Linked DNA regions of Homo sapiens: region 1 is linked to region 2. Evidence: fine-mapped expression QTL. Tissue or cell type: whole blood. Region 2 holds a variant in brackets; the other region holds the start of a gene. All regions are shown on one strand. Distances are from middle to middle.

What was found. PIP is the estimated chance that this variant, and not a neighbour inherited with it, causes the effect.
Region 1: MSH6 starts here. The variant in region 2 is fine-mapped to the expression of MSH6 in whole blood (TOPMed, PIP 0.95).

The regions. Positions count from the first base shown.
Region 1 is chr2:47,778,342-47,787,591 of GRCh38, reverse strand. It overlaps MSH6 (mutS homolog 6), which reads right to left and starts at 4,447. Exons shown (of 10, transcript NM_000179.3): 1 at 4,099-4,447. The coding sequence starts at 4,358. RefSeq lists silencers at 3,665-3,754, 3,955-4,114, 4,395-4,874, 6,025-6,206 and an enhancer at 5,005-5,074.
Region 2 is chr2:47,810,827-47,818,826 of GRCh38, reverse strand. It overlaps FBXO11 (F-box protein 11), which reads left to right. Exons shown (of 23, transcript NM_001190274.2): 16 at 1-48; 17 at 4,960-5,036; 18 at 5,450-5,593. Among named protein-coding and RNA genes, the nearest start is that of MSH6, 32 kb to the right of the region's middle. RefSeq lists enhancers at 2,717-2,766, 2,927-2,996. The variant C/T (reference allele first, on the strand shown) is at 4,126.

The sequences.
Region 1 (9,250 bases), 32 kb after region 2:
TAGGATTTTGCAAGTGCTTTTAAAGCTTTAAGTGAGTCTTAAATGTCCGGTATTCTTGGGGTTTTTTAAGACGGTGGGGAAAAATGTTAAGAGGAAAAGCTGACAGCTCACAAAATAAATGTTAAAACTTTGATATAATAAGTAATGGCTTTGTCTAAACATACGCTAAACAGATCTTTTGAATTCTGGTTTAAAATCACATTATTTTTGCTTTCTCTTTAGCCCATAATTTTGATGTCAATTACTAGTTGTTCCTAAAATATATAATCAACATTTTCACCAACTTTTATTTTATTTTTTGGCAGACAGGGTCTGACTCTGCCACCCAGGCTGGAGTGCATGGCATGATCTCTTGGCTTACTGCAGCCTCAACCTCCTGGACTCAAGCGATCCTCCCATCTCAGTCTCCCAAGAAGCTGGGACTACAGGCACACGCCACCATGCCTGGCTAATTTTCTTATTTTTTGGAGAGACAGGGTCTAGCCATGTTGGCCTGCCTTGGCCTCCCAAAGTGTTGGGTTTACAGGCATGAGCCACTGCACCCAGCCTCCCTGTGGATTTCTTAAATAAAACCTATAGAAACACTAACCACAGAGAAAATAAAAGGACAAATTCCACATTATAATCAATAATTTGTTCATCGAAAGATGCCATAAGGCTGGGTGTGGTGGCTCACACTTGTAATCCCAACAGGTTGGGAGGCTGAAGTGGGAGGATCGCTTGAGAGCAAGAGTTCAACACCAGCCTGGGCAACAAAGTGAGACCTCTATTATTCAACAACAACAACAAAGCCATAAACTAAATGAAAGAACTCATTGTGAAAGAAGACATTTATATCACACACAAATGACAAAGAACTAGGAAAAAAAAAAGAAACAGCAAAAGACAAACACTTCAGCACAAGAAGAAATCTAAATGACAAACATTAAAAGATGCTCGGACAGACACGGTGGCTCACGGCCAGGTGCGGTGGTTCACGCCTGTAATCCCAACACTTTGGGAGGCTGAGGTGGGTGGATCACCTGAGGTCAGGAGTTCACGACTGGCCTGACCAACATGGTGAAACCCGTCTCTACTATAAACACAAAAATTAGCTGGGCGTGGTGGCAGGCACCTGTAATACCAGGTACTTGAGAGGATGAGGCAGGAGAATCGCTGGAACCCAGGAGGCGGAGGTTGCAGTGAGCTGAGACCACACCACTGCACTCCAGCTTGGGCAACAAGAGTGAAATTCCGTCTCAAAAAAAAAAAAAATACGCTCAACATGTTTTAAGGCTTAAATGATTCATGGAGTAAGTCCGAATGTCTCTGTAGCTCATCAGACTGTTCATGATTGGATCTCTGCTTAACTTCTCCAATGCTCCCTCCTCCTCCTTTCATCCTACCCACAATTTGCAGACCTTCCTCTTCCTGAACCAGCTTCCCACTCTCACTATAATCTGTCTAAGCTTATTTGTCCTTCTGGTTTCGGTTTACAGAGCTGAGAGCCTAGCCTGACCCGCATCCTCTCCGTCCCCTTTCCACTTGGAGTCTACAATTGCCTCTTTGCTTTGTCCTGTTCATGGTTGTATCCAGGATCCATAATGCCTAATGCTGTGCTCGGCAGAGTGATCTAGACACTGCAGTTTCTTTAGAAACCTAGTATCAAATGCCCATCTTTCTTGAATACCCTGGAATCCTCTCCATAACGGGAGGTGAAATGTATACGTTTTATTTTTACAAGTCTCTTAAACTCAACCTCAAGAAACAAATAACATACGCTATTCAATATGAATGTAAAGTACATCCTTACAATAAATACACCCGTTTGGTTTGGATTCAACAATCAATTCATGCTCAAGTAAACAATACGTCATGCTTTTCTAACCAGGAGTTTGTTATTGCGGATGCTGGCTCTGTTCCCCACAAGCATATTCTACTAATGCACAACTATATATATTTAAACTGCGGGAAAGGGTCGCTTAAACAAGGGTAACACTATAATTACACTTAGAAAAATCTCAGAATTCCTTTAGGACACTTTAAACTGGATTTAAATGGATTTGAAATCCATTACTCAAAACCACTAACTAGCGGCCGGGCACGGTGGCTCACACCTGTAATCCCAGCACTTTGGGAGGCTGAAGTGGGTGGACCACTTGAGGTCAGCAGTTTCAAGACCAGCCTGGCCAACATGGTGAAACTCCATGGTGAAAAATCAGCCGGACCGCGGTGGGCACACCCGTAATCCCAGCTACTCGGGAAGCTGAGGCAGGAGAATCACTTGAACCCGGCGGGCAGAGGTTGCAGTGAGCCGAGAAAGCGCCACAGCACTCCAGCCTGGGCGACAGAGCGAGACTCCATTTCAAAACAAAACCAAACAAAAAACACGAACTGGCTCTTATCTTGAATGAGTTATTTTTTCTGAGCCTTTATTTCTTCGTTTGTTCAAATAGCGACCATTAAACTTTGTGTTTAGTATCTGACAAACGGCCGGGCTCGGTGGTTCATGCCTGTAATCCCAGCACTTTGGTAGGCCAATGCGGGCCGATCAAGAGGTCAGGAGTTCGATACCAGCCTGGCCAACATAGTGAAACCCGTCTCTACTAAAAATACAAAAATTAGCCAGGCGTGGTGGGGCGCACCTGTAGTCCCAGCTACTTGGGAGGCTGAGGCAGGATAATCTCTTGATCCAGAGACAGAGGTTGTGGTGAGCCAAGAACGCGCCACTGCACTCTAGCCTGGACAAAAGAGCAAGACTCTGTCTCAAAATACATATATATGTATCTGGCAAACAGCAAAAGCAAGCTTTTCAAAATGTCGCCAGCTGCCCGGATAAAAAGCCCTAAACAGACCGGGCGCGGTGGCTAGCGCCTGTAATCCCAGCACTTTGAGGCCGAGGCGGGTGGATCACCTGAGGTCGGGAATTCCGAGACTAGCCTGACCAACATGGAGAAACCCCGTCTCTACTAAAAATACAAAATTGGCGGGGTGTGGGGGCGCATTCCTGTAATCCCGACTACTCGGGAGGCTGAAGCTGGGGAATCGCTTGAAGCCGGGACGCGGAGATTGCGGTGAGCTGAGATCGCGCCATTGCACTCCAGCCTGGACTTGAGCGAAACTCTCTCTCAAAAAGGAAAAAAAAAAAAAAGCACTTAACTGCCCATAAAGTGAGGACAACTCCCGACAGGCTTCCCCGGAGTCACTCACGTCCACACATCTTTGTCCAGCGCCCGATTAAGGCCTCTAAAAGCCCAGTGGTGCCCCATAAAAATTACACTATTTCATAAAATAAAATATTTTCCACTCGACACGAATTTCCACATACGTCAAAATATTCTATCTTCGTCTCGGTGCACGTGCAGCCTACCTACCGAAGGACCCAGCCGGATCCCAGCACTTCGGCTCCCCACGGCCCCGCCCCGCCCAATTAGGCCCCGCGGTCCCCATGGTGACACACCCCCCCGCGCTCGCAGCTCGTGGCCCACCCCCTCGGCGGCCCCTCACCTAGGCCGAAGGCCCACCGTCCCCAAGGCGTCTCGGCGACCGCGGCTCTTAACTACCTCTAAGTGTCTACCTCGATCGACTACTGGAGCCCCAACTCACTATCTCCGCGCCGGCCGAGGAACCTCCTTTCGCACCCCACACCACCGGACTCTCCCCGTTCGGCCTCCCGCAGGCATTCCTCCTTCCCGCCACCCCGCCCCCCGCCCCGCCCACCAAGTGGGCCGGGCGCCTTCCCCTTCTCGCCCCACCCCCAGTGCTCCCACCTCCCAGGCCCCCTCCCCACCCGGAGCTGCGCGCGTCGCCCCTTCCTTAGCCCAGCACCCCCACCTGGCGGGACGCGTCTCCTCCCTCCAAAAGGCCCGAACTCTCCGCGTCTCCCCTGCAGCCCTCTTCCTGCACAGCCTCTCTCCTCCGACCCTGTTTACAAGCTACACCCCCAAATGCTCCAGACTCGACCCCTGCACTCATTCAAGCCAACTCTGCGGCCCCGCCTCCTCCGAGCCCAGGGCCAGGCCGTGCACCCCCCCAACCCCCTGTGCGAGCCTCCCCTCGCCGGGTTCCAAGCGCCCCGCCGCTATGCCCCCGCCTTCGACCCCACCCCCACCCCGCTACCTGGTGGGGGCAGCAGGCGCTACCGATCTCCGCAGCCCTCCGTTGAGGTTCTTCGCCTTGGGCGGTGACGCGGAGCGCGCCAAGGGCCTGGGCCCAGGCCCAGCCTCGCTCCAGGCCGCATCCCCGCCTGGGGAAGGAGAGGCCCCGGGGGCAGCGGCGGCACGGCCGCCTTCGCGTGAGGCCCTGGCCGAGGCCTTGTTGGCATCACTCAGCGCCGGAGACTTGGGGAAGAAGCTGTACAGGGTGCTCTGTCGCGACATACCGACAGCCGGCAAGGCCCAACCGTTCTGTCGGACGGAGCTCCTAAAAGCACCGCATCTACCGCGCGGCTCCTGCTGGCGGGAAATCTGGGGGGAGGCGCGCTCCGCCGGAGGAACCCGGGCCCCAGTGGCCAATCAACAGGCGCCTCGCCGTGCGCGGGCGGTGCGCGCCAGGCCCCGCCCCCGGGCGCGCGGCGACGTGGGGAAGGGCGGGGCTGGCACACTGGTGGGTAGGGGCGGGGCTGGCACGCTGGCGGTGAGGGGCCCGCCCTGCCGCCGACGCCTGGGCCCCGCGCGGGGAACTGCTGAGCTCCCCTTCCCTCACGCCGCGGGGCTGGCCGGGCCGGAACACTCCGACCCGGGGTTAGTTGCGGCCGCGGGGCTAGCAGGCTCGGAAAGCCCTGCCTCTCTGGAGCGGAAGCGGGAACAGCGGGGGCGCGCACCGCCCGGGCGGGGATAACCGGGGGGACCCGAAAGGCCTCGGAAAGGGGCTCGCGGGGAGAAACGCGTCCAGCGCTCGCGTGACCTCCTGCCGTTAGAGCATTTTCGCAAGGAGACGGAGCGAAAGGGACCAAACTTTAGTCAGCAGTTCACCTTCACGTTGTATTCTCAAGATTTGTATAGAGTAGGCACTTGGTAAACGCTAAATGAATATTGTAATAGCATTCGTTAGCGATGCTGTTGTGTATGGTGAAAGCCTGCAGCTGTACAAAGTTTTCCTTTGCCAGGCACTGATCCCAGCATTTTACATCTGGTAACTAAATCGATCCTCTCAATAACCTGTGACGTAAGTACTTAAGGGCCACAGTCCGTTATCTGAGCCCTTTGACCCAGGTGTGTCTTTACAGGATTTTTCAAATTTTAGAAAGCTAAGAGACTATGAGAGGCCGGGCGCAGTGGCTCACGCCTGTAATCCCAGCACTTTGGGATGCCGAGGCGGGCGGATCACCTGAGGTCAGGCGTTGAAGACCAGCCTAGTCAACATGGTGAAACCCCCGTCTCTACTAAAAATCCAAAAATTAGCCGGGCGTGGTGGCATGCGCCTGTAATCCCAGCTACTTGGGAGGCTGAGGCAGGAGAATAACTTGAACCTGGGAGGCAGCGTTTGCAGTGAGCCAAGGTCGCGCCACTGCACTCCAGCCTGGGCGACAAGAGCGAAACTCCGTCTCAAAAAAAAAAGAAAGAAAGCTAAGAGGCTATGAGAATAAAAAGGTTCTATTCAAATTCAAGAAAGATAGTGGAAGACAGACAATTGTTTGTCCCCTTATCCAGATTGTGAAATCCAGATTGCCGGAAACCAGTCACAATCAACAGCTGTACATTGGTAAAAACCTATGTAAAATTAGTTGTTTGCCTTGTTCTTGGAGACTGTTCTGCCAGAAGGTTCTCCTTTGCTAGGCAAGTAATAAAATCAATCTAAAAAAAAAAGGCGGGGGCCGGGCGCAGTGGCTCACGCCTGTAGTCCCAGCACTCGGCACTTCGGGGGGGGGGCGGAGGTGGGCGGATCACGAGGTCAGGAGATCGAGACCATCCTGGCTAACACAGTGAAACCCCGCCTCTACTAAAAATACAAAAAATTAGCCTGGCGTGGTAGCACACGCCTGTAGTCCCAGCTACTGGGGAGGCTGAGGTAGGAGAATGGTGTGAACCCGGGAGGCGGAGCTTGCAGTGAGCCGAGATCGCGCCTCTGCACTCCAGCCTGGGCGACAGAGCAAGACTCCCTCTCAAAAAAAAAAAAAGAATATTGCCAAAGGTGGTATGTGCTAAGAAAAATACAGTATGCTTCACGAATTTGCATTTCATCCCTGTGCAGGGGTCATTCCAATTTTGGTATATGTGCTACCCAAGCAAGCACAGTGAAACCAACTGTTTGAGATAATATTTGAGAGTTGGTCTCTTTCCCCCACCGGCATACGTAAACACCCCCAGAGAGTCTGGGGGAACATGCTGAAATCAAACATGCAGTAAAACTTACATGCTTATTCATACTAAGTAGAAAGAATACAGAATATAGACTATAAATAGCCTCAGGTCAAAATTTGCTACCAAATGAGTTTACCCCCAAACTTTTGGTTTACAGAGCTTTTTGGATTTCAGAATTGCACGTAAGAGGCTGGTTATCCTGTATCTCCATATCATGGATGAAGCTGAGGCACAGTTGGGTCAAGTAACTTGCCCATGACTGCATAGCTAGGAAGTGGTGGAGCCTGGATTTAAACTCAAGGAAGCTGGTTCTGGAGCCCTATGTTGTTAACAGAAATACTATAATACTTCCAATTTAACACCATTTTATCTCATTTAGTTATTACAACCACCTTATACTAGGTTGAACTATGTGAAATTGCCAAAATTTGCCCTTTTTAAAATTTTTTTGAGACAGGGTCTGGCTCTGTCACAGAGGCTGGAGTATAGTGGCGTGATCTTGGCTTACTGTAGCCTCAACCTCCCAGGCTTAAGTAATCCTCTCACCTCAGCCTCCTGAGTACCTGGGACCACAGGCCCGCAACACCATGCCCAGCTAATTTTTTTTTTTTTTAATTGAGGAGTCTTATTCTGTCACCCAGGCTGGAGTACAGTGACGCCATCTTGGTTCACTGCAACCCCTGCTTTGCGGGTTCAGGCAATTCTCATGCCTCAGCCTCCTGAGTGCTAGGATTACTGGTGCCTACCACCATGCCCAGCTAATTTTTGTTTTTTAGTAGAGACACGGTTTCACCATGTTGGCCTGCCTGATCCCAAACTCCTGACCACAAGTGACCCGCCTGCCTCAGCCTCCCAAAGTGCTGGGATTACAGGTATGAGCCACTGTGCCCGGTGCCCTGCTAGTATTTTAAAAATTTTCTGTAGAGACGAAGTTTCACTATGTTGCCCAAGCTGGACCTTTTTGGTTTTTTGGTTGTTTTGTTTTGAGACAGGGTCTTACTCTGTCTCCCAGACTGGTGTGCAGTAGTGCAGTCTCAGCTCACCACAACTTTCACCTCCCAAGCTCAAGCAATTCTCCTTCCTCAGCCTCCTGAATAGCTGGGATTACCGGCACGCGCTACTACTGCCCAGCTAATTTTTGTATTTTTAGTAGAGACAGGATTTCACCATGTTGGCCAGGCTGGTCTCAAACTCCTGACCTCAAATGATCCTCCTGCCTCGGCCTCCCAAAATGTTGGGATTACAGGCGGGAGCCACTGCGCCCAGCCAAGCTGGACCGTTTTTGAAGTACAAATATTAATATTTAATTCATTTTGGTTCAACTGAATATAACGTTATTCTCTTTTTGTTGTTGTTGTTTGTTTTTTTGGGGATGGAGTCTTGCTCTGTCACCGAGGCTGGAGTGCAATGGCACGATCTTGGCTCACCACAACCTCCGCCTCCCAGGTTAAGGCAATTCTCCTGCCTCAGTCTCCTGAGTAGCTGGGGTTACAGGCACCAACACACCCAGCTAAGTTTTGTATTTTTAGTAGAGATGGGGTTTCACCATGTTGGCCAGGCTGGTCTCAAACTCCTGACCTCGTGATCCGCCCATCTCTGCCTCCCAAAGTGCTGGGATTATAGATGTGAGCCACTGCGCCCGGCCGATGTTATTCTTTTACAGGGAGGAAATGGAGGTTCAGAGGGGATGCGCCAGTTGTAAGAGGTTAAGAGCCTGGGCTTTGGGTTAAATGGAGAACTGAGCTCTGATCCTAGCTAGCCAAGCAGATAACTCGGAGCAATTAATACTTTTCTGAACTTGTTTCCTCGTCTTTGATAAGGACAGTAGTACCTATGGGCCAAATTTTGGAGGCTACAGTTAGATGCCTCCCACAAACTTCATTAAAAGACAAGAGAACACATGTATTATGTGGGGACACTCAGACCCCCAGAATTGGCATGAATGTTACTTGGAACTGAAGACATTTGAGAGCCAACAGATGCAGAAAGATGCCGTTTCAAAGCTTCCCTTATGCGACTAACAGCAGAAATTTCTGGGAGTGAAGCTGCCGTAAATCTCCTCTCTAGGGGAGTTTTAGTGGCCAGAAAAAAAGACAAAGACCACTTGCACCTGCAAAAACAAACATTCTTATCTCCCTTTTGTTCCCCCAGAAACCTATTTGTTCTTCCCATGGAAGGCTTTTTCTCCCTCCTCTTCCCCTATTAAATGGTATATATAAAGTAGATTTCGAGATTCAAGAAAAAAAAAGTTGTATAAATGCCAAATAACAGCCTCCTGGACTCACTTTTTTTTTCTGTGAACTCCTGCATGCATATCTGAATAAAAGTCTGTCTTTTTTTTTTTTTTTTTCTGAGACAGGGTCTCACTCTGTTGCCCAGGCTGATCCTCCAGCCTCAGCCTCCCAAGCAGCTAAGACTGCAGGTGTGCGTCCTCACACCCTGATAATTTTATTTTCTGTAGAGACTGGGTCTTGCTATGTTGCCCAGGCCGGTCTCCAACTCTTGGGCTCAAGCCCTTCTCTCTACTTGGCCTCCCAAAGTGCTAGGATTACAGGCCTGAGCCACCGTGCCCGGCCCTAAACTGTCTTTAGTCTGCAGTGCCCAACCAACACATACATTCCATGACTATATATGGGTTATTTTGAAAACTGAATAAAAATATTTTTCTTTTATATGTATTTTTTTTTCAAATGGCTACACTTAGTAAATTGCATAACAATCAATGGAGTTGTTTTGGCCTAGGAGATGTGGCAGGAAAGTACTAAGGTAGTAAATATACTAGGTGTTTGGGAACCTCTGGCCTACTGGTTAAGAGCTCTGTATTCAAAGTTTGTGTTCACATCCCAGCTGAGCTGCTTACTAAACTGCACGAGCTTGTTGGGCAAGTTATTTAGCCTGTGCCTCAGTTTCTACATCTGTAAAACAGGGATGATATTAACACTACCTTCTTCATGGGTTGTGCTAAGCAT
Region 2 (8,000 bases):
AGAAGACAATGATATCTATAATCATATGTATTCAGGGGTTCAGATAAGGTAAATGTTTTCATATTTGGCTATCTTTTGGGAGGGAGTTAGGAGTATGTGGGGTGTGTAAAAGAAATTTGCTTATTGTTTAATGCCCAATCTTTATCCCCCTATTGTATATATATTCACATTCTTAAAATAATCTTGACTTAAATTGTCAGAATGTAGCTTTCCTTGGTCTAGGTGAGGACAGAAGCCACTGGCACATGTGCCATAAGAGCTCACTTCCACCGTTCTGCTTTCCACTATGAGAGTCACATCAGCTGCCAATATGATCCTTCATACTTGGAGAGTGGAAGTCTGTGTTAAAATACTTGTGCATTATGCCTGGCATATCATTGGCACTCAATAAAATGAAGCTTCTGTTTTATGCTATTTCTGTAAAATTAATAGTTTTTGATACCCCTCTAATATTTTAAGTTTTTGGAATTCTAGCAGTACTAATGATCATATACTGGCTTACCTCTGTTTATTACACTTTACAGTTCATTGTGCTTCACAGATACTGTGTTTTTTCACAAATTGAAGTTTTGTGGCAATACTGTGTTGAGCAGATCTCTCTGCCATTTTTTTCCAGCAGCATGTGCTCACTTCCTGTCTCTGTGTCTCATTTTTTCATTATCATTATGTCTGTTATGGTGATCTCTGATCAGTGATCCTTTTTGTTTGTTTGAGACGGAGTTTCACTCTTGTTGCCCAGGCTGGAGTGCAATGGCACGATCTCGGCTCACCGCAACCTCAGCCTCCCAAGTAGCTGGGATTACAGGCTTGTGCCACCATGCCTGGCTGACTTTGTATTTTTAGTAGAGATGGGGTTTCTCCATATTGGTCAGGCTGGTCTCAAACTCCTGACTTCAGGTGATCCACCCGCCTCAGCCTCCCAAAGTGCTGGGATCACAGGCGTGAGCCACCACACCCACCCTGATCAGTGATCTTTGATGTTACTATTGTAATTGTTTTGGGACACCATTAACTGCGCCCAAGATAACAAACTTCATCTGTAAACGTTGTGTGTGTTCTGACTGTTCCACCAAGCAGCCATTCCCATCTCTGTCCCTCTCCTCAGGCTTCCCTATTGCCTGAGACACAACAGTATCGAAATTAGGCCAATTAGTAATCCTCAAATGGCCTCTATAAGTATTGAAGTGAAAGGAGGAGTTGCGTATCTCTCACTTTAAATCAAAAGCTAGAAATGATGAAGGTTAGTGAGGAAAGTATGTCTAAAGGCTGAATAGCCCAAAAGCTAGGCCTCTTGTCCAGTTAGCTAAGTTGTGAATGCAAAGGAAAAGTCCTAGAAAGAAATTAAAAATGCTATTCCAGTAAACACATGAATGATAAAGCAAAGCAAAACAACCTTATTGCTTAGTTTCTCAGGGTTCAAAGCAAAATAAAATAATAACAAAAAAATGGACTTATGCTAATATGGAGAATGTTTTAGTGATGTGGATAGAAGAACAAACCAGCCGCAACATTCCCTTAAGCCAATTCCTAATCCAGAGCAAGGACCCAACTCTCTTCAGTTCTATGAAGGCTGAAAGAGGTGAAGAAGCTGCAGAAGAAAAGTTTGAAGCTAGCAGAGGTTGATTCATGAGGTTTAAGAAAAAAAGCTAAGTGCAAGGTGGAGCAGCAAATGCTGAGATAGAAGCTACAGAAAGTTATCCCAGAAGATATAGCTAAGATCATTGTTGAAGGTGGCTACACTAAACAGATTTCAGTGTAGACTCAATAGTTTTATATTGGAAGAAGATGCATCCAGAACATTCATAGCTAGAGGGGAGAAGTCAATGCCTGACTTCAAAGGGCAAGCTGATCTCTTGTTAAGGGTTAGTTAAGCTGATGACTTTAAGTTGCAGGCAGTGCTCATTTACCATTATGAAAACCCTAGGGCCCTTAAGAATTATGCTAAATCTACTCTGCCTGTGCGCTATAAAGGGAACAACAAATCATGGATGATAGCACATGAATTTACAGTACAGTTTACTGAATATGTTAAGTCCACTGAGACCTAGTGCTCAGAAAAAATATTTCAAAATATTACTGCTCATTGACAATGCACCCAGTAACCCAAGAATTCTGATGCAGATGCACAAGGAGATTGTTGTTTTCACGCCTGCTAATACAGCATCCATCCCACAGTCTGGATCAAGGAGTGATTTCAATTTTTAAGTCTTTGTATGTAAGAAATACTTTTTAGAAAGCAGTAGTTGCCATAGATAGTGATTCCTCTGATGGATCTGGGCAAAGTAAATTGAAAACCTCTGGAAAGGATTCACCATTCCAGATTTCATTAAGAACATTCATGATTCCTGGGAGGAGATCTGAAAAAGTGCTGTAATCCAAGCATTTTGGGAGGCTGAGGTGGAAGGATCTCCTGAGGCCAGGAGTTCAAGATCAGCCTGGGCAACATAGCAAAACCCTGTCTCTGTAAAAAATAGAAAAAATTAGCTAGGCATGGTGGCATGCGCCTGTGGTCCCAGCTACCCGGAAGGCTGAGGTGGGAGGATCGCTTGAGCCCAGGAAGTCGAGGCGGCACTGAGCTATGATTATACCACTGTGCTCCAGCCTGGATGACTGAGTGAGACCCTGTCTCAAAAAACAGAACAAAACAAAAAAAAATTGCAGTTATGCCCTGAGCCAAATGTTGAGCTTTTCTGCCCACAAAGTGCAAAATTGTAGTACTGGCAGAGGTGCAACCCAAGGGGTCGCCAGGGTTCTCACCGCCCTTGGCCATGGGGCAGGCTGATCTAGACAGCAGGGGGATGTTTTCAGGGCTGAAGGTTCCCCCTACCTAGTCGTGAACACATCGGGTGCTGGAGCACCTGTGTTCCCATGAGGCCAGCGTGGGCCATGCATGGCTTCAAAAGGCCCTCGAGGCTTGACTAAGTGCGCCAGTTTCATTCTGAACATGCTGCTCTAAAACACATCCCTGCTGAGCCACAGGAGGATCAGATATTGTGAGCTTCTGGCCCGTTGATGCTCAAGAGCTGGGGCATGCGGGGAAGACTCCAGAACTTCTAACTCTCGCTAACCTTACATCTGGGATTCTTACGCCCTCAGCTGAAGAACTCTATGAATTTCAGCTTTGAAGAGGTTCTTCTAACACTTGGCCAATTTCAACCAGGCTTTGCTAAAGTCCTCTGAAATTGGGGGTCTGAAAGCCAGTTACTTGGATCACAAGTTACCTGTGAAATCTGCAAGGACCTGCTGTCAGGGCTCATTAAACCCCGAAGTATGGCACCTTGGCATGCGGACTACTCTGACCCAGAGGAGACTGGAAGGCCTCAGAAGCCAGGTCTTTGTCCTTCCCTCCTGGTTCCTGCCTCCTTTTCTCCCCCAAATTGAGTCCCAGAAACCAGAATTCCTTTTCCTCAAAGCAGGTCTTAGAAACTAGAATTCCTTTCTCTCAAACCCAGCCATAAAACCTAGCTAGGTCACTCTCTCCCTTCTCCCTGGAAGATCCTCATTCCCGAGGGGGATACCCAGGGGAAGGGGAATTGTACAGAGCGGCTTTGCTGGGTTTCCCGACTCTGTCCATCACCGTTAGGCCAGATCCTTTGTGTCCAATCACATTTCTGCGTGGATGTTCATTCATCAAACCTAAATACAAAAATAAACGTTTTTATGGCCAGGACAAAAAAAAATTAACAGGAGTTTGGAAGAAGTTGCTTCCAACCCTCATGGATGACTTTAGGGGTATAAGACTTTGGTGGAGGAACTAATTCCAGACGTGGTAGAAATTGCAAGAGAAGTAGAATTAGAAAATGGAACATGAAGATGTGACTGAATTGCTGCAACCTCATGATAAAACTTGGACAGATGAGGAGTTGCTTCTTACGGATGAGCAAAGAGTGGTTTTTCTTGAGGTGGGGTCTGTTCCTGTTGAAGATGCTGTGAACATAGTTGAAATGAAGACAAAGGATTTAGAATATTACATAAGCCTGTTAATAAAGTAGTAGCAGGGTTGGCAAGGATTGACAACAATTTTGAAAGAAATTCTACTGTGAGCAAAATGCTATAACAACATTGCATGCTACAGAGAAATCTTCCGTGAAAGGAAGAGTCAGTCTATGTGGCAAACTTAATTGT[C/T]TTATTTTAAGAGATTGCCAGTTGGTCAGGTGCAGTAGATCATGCCTGTAATCCCAGCACTTTGGGAGACTGAGACAGGTGGATCACTTGAGCCCAGGAGTTTGAGAACAGCCTGGGCAACATGGCAAAACTCCATCTCTACAAAAAATACAAAAATTAACTGGGCATGGTGGTGTGCACCTGTAGTCCCAGCTACTCGGGAGGCTTAGGCAGGAGGATTGCTTGAGCCCAAGAGTTCGAGGCTGCAGTGAGCTATGATCATGCCACTGCAACTCCAGCCTGGGTGACAGAGCAAGACCCCATGTCTTTAAAAAAAAAAAAAAAAAAAGACTCCCTGAAGGCTTAGATTGTTATGAGCATTTTTTTAGCGATAAAGTATTTTTAAGTTAGGGTATGTGCTTTTTTTTATGAAATGCTATTGCATACTTAATAGACTACAGTATAATGTAAACCAAAAAATTGATGCGACTCTCTTTATTGCAATACTCGCTTTATTATGGTGGTCTGGAACGGAACCTGCAGTTATCTCCAAGGCATGCCTGTAATTCAGTCCTTCATTTTACATATGAGGGGAATATATGTCACTTAATATAACCCCATTTAGTTTACATGTTAGGAAACTCTACAATAATAATCTGTAGTAAAGTATGTTCTGTGGGAAATACAGGATTAAGCAAAATTAAACCACTTTCTTCTCAGGGCATCTTGGACTCCATTGTATAGTTAATTCTTACTAAGTGACTTATGTGGATTTCTCCACTGTTTACCTCACGTAACATGAAGATATGGGAGTAGAAGCTATTGAAATGGTATTATTGTCTATTCTGTTTACAGGACTGGAAGCAACCCCAAAATTAGACGCAACAAAATCTGGGGAGGACAGAATGGTGGAATTCTAGTTTATAATTCTGGTATGTTTAATCTGTCATCTTTTTTCTGTGTTAATAAACTTTAGAAATACACCTTCTAGGCCGGGCACGGTGGCTCACGCCTGTAATCCCAGCACTTTGGGAGGCCGAGATGGGTGGATCACCCGAGGTCAGGAGTTTAAGACCAGCCTGGCCAACATGGTGAAACCCTGTCTCTACTAAATATTACAAAAATTAGTTGGACATGGTGGCACACGCCTGTATTCCCAGCTACTTGGGAGGCTGAGGCAGGAGAATCACTTGAACCCGGGAGGTGGAGGTTGCAGTGAGCCAAGATCGCGCCACTGCACACTCCAGCCTGGCAACAGAGCGAGACTCTGTCTCAAAAAAAAAAAAAAAAAAAAAAATTAAAAAGAAATATACCTTCTAGATAACCTACATTTTTGCATTTATAGGTCTAGGCTGTATAGAAGACAATGAAATATTTGACAATGCAATGGCTGGAGTCTGGATTAAGACAGATAGTAATCCTACACTAAGAAGAAATAAAATCCATGATGGAAGAGATGGTGGCATCTGTATATTTAATGGGGGTCGAGGTATTGTTGTTAATTTTGCATTAGTGAAAAATCCAGTTTTCCATTATTCTTCCATATCTTTAATGATCAATGACATTGCTAACTAAGTTATAAATGAGTGAATCTCAAGTCTTTTTCCTTATCAAGTTGAACTGGTTTAGGAGATTAGTGCCTAGAGTTAAGAGACAAATGTTTACAATACTTTTCCTTTTGTAGCCACTTTGAGTCTGCAGTTGTCAGTAAGCCTTTTTAAAGATAGAATTTGTTTACATTCTCTGGACCTTTTAAAATTCAGAATAGTAATATGATTATAATAAACTTCAAAGTCAAGTTATAGAAATAGATGTGAGAAATTGATCTGTAAATATCTGAAAATGTCTTTAGTAAACGGGTATTGCTTTTGTAACTGTTTTCAACTGTGTTTGTTGGAGAGTGGAATTAATGAAGCCAAGATGTGCCTGGTTTGGTATTCATAAAGGTCAACTCACTTTGCATTGAGGCAAAAGTTCCATAGTGCCTGCCCCTTACAGATGCATGTATACAGAGATTCACAGAGCTGCCAAATGCAAATCTATCGCTGTTCCTGAAATGTCAATAACCCAACATTTGTACATATCTTACATAGAATAGCTAGTTATTACTCTAACATGCCAAGATTTAATGAACAAAATTTAATACCACAGCCAAGCAGTGATGATTCCATTGACAGACTCTCCAGGAGCTTATAATCTAGTAATTCAGTAAAGTGACGTATCTCAGATAGTTTTCACAAAATATAGTGAAGACACACAATACAGAATGGTTTATTTGCAAGGTGTTGAGAAATGGTTCACGCAAGTCAAATCACTTTTGAGCCGTGTTTTGAAAAATGAGTAGATATTTACTGGCAATTGGGTTTGGGAGAGGCGAACAGACCATTCCAGATGTTATTTCACTTTTATTCTTTAGATACTGATTTAACACCTCTGTACCAACTACTATGATACAGATGCTAGAGATATGCTAAATGAAACAGCACATCCATAAAATGTATAGTGTGATGGAGTGGAGCACATCGTAAACAAAAGTCTAGAGGAAACTGAAAGTAAGGGAAGAGGTACAGAAAATTGAGGCTACAGAAGGGGCAAGGCCCAAATCATGAGGTTTTCCATATGCAGTAAGGAGTTTGGAATCCATCTTAGCAATAGCACTTGAGGTGTAGTGGAAATAATCAAGATTAGAGACAGGGACTTGGAATAACTCAGGCAATAAATAATGAGAGCCTAAACTAAAATGATAGCATAAGGGTGTGAAAAGGTTGGGGGGGCAGGGGGTGGGACATGTTAATGATACTTAAAAGGACAGAACCAACTGGGCACAGTGGCTCACACCTGTACTTCCAGCTGCTCTGGAGGCTAAGGCAGGAGTATCACTTGAGTCTGGAGTTGGAAACCAGCCTAGGCAATGTAGTAAGACCGTATCTCTATAAAAAGGGTGGAACCAACAGGACTGGGTCATTGATTTAATATGGGGGTTGAAAGTAAAGTGAAATATGATGGGTGCTCAGGATTCTGATTTGGGTGGGTGACTACCTTTCACTGAGGTAAGTTATATAGGAAATGGTTTCTGGAAAACATTAGTAAGGTCAGTTTTTAAACACTGAATCCAAGGTTGTCTTCTGGAATATCCAAATTGGTTATGACCAGAATGTGATTCATTATACTAAGCTAAAGGAATAGATTAAAGAATTAGCAACAGTGGCCGGGTGCAGTGGCTCATGCCTGTAACCCCAGCACTTTGGGGGAGGCCCAGGTGGGTGGATCATTTGAGGTCAGGAGTTTGAGACCAGCCTGGCCAACATGGTGAAACCTAAAAATACAAAAATTAGCCAGGTGTGGTGGCAGGTGCTTGTAATCCCAGCTGCTTGGGAGGCTGAAGCAGGAGAATTGCTTGAACCCGGAGGCAGGGGTTGCAGTGAGCCAAGATCACACCATTGCACTCCAGCCTGGGTGGCAGAGTGAGACTCTGTCTCAAAAATTAAAAAGCAACAGTGTATATGCAATAGTTGCAAGATGTAAGATCACCCAAAGAGTATGCAGAGGGAAATGAGGGACAGAACCCAGAAATATTAATACCCAGGGAGTGAACAGGAGGAGGACCCCAAGAAGTTACTGAGTCAGATTTTTCCCACTCATCCAGGTGAAAGTTTAGGTCAATAATGTGAAATACCAGAGGGATTAAATGTCTACAGAAATAAAACCATGTCTCACATTAAGACAAACAAGTAGGTTGGAGGGATATTTTGAAAGGCAAGGTGATATTAAACTTTATTCTGAAAGTAGTTTGTTAGAGAAAGAGGCATGATAAGAGTTGCAGTTAACTGATTGGAAACTATGCAGCAGATGAAACTGGAATAAAGGAAACTCATCAGGAAATGATTATAGTAATA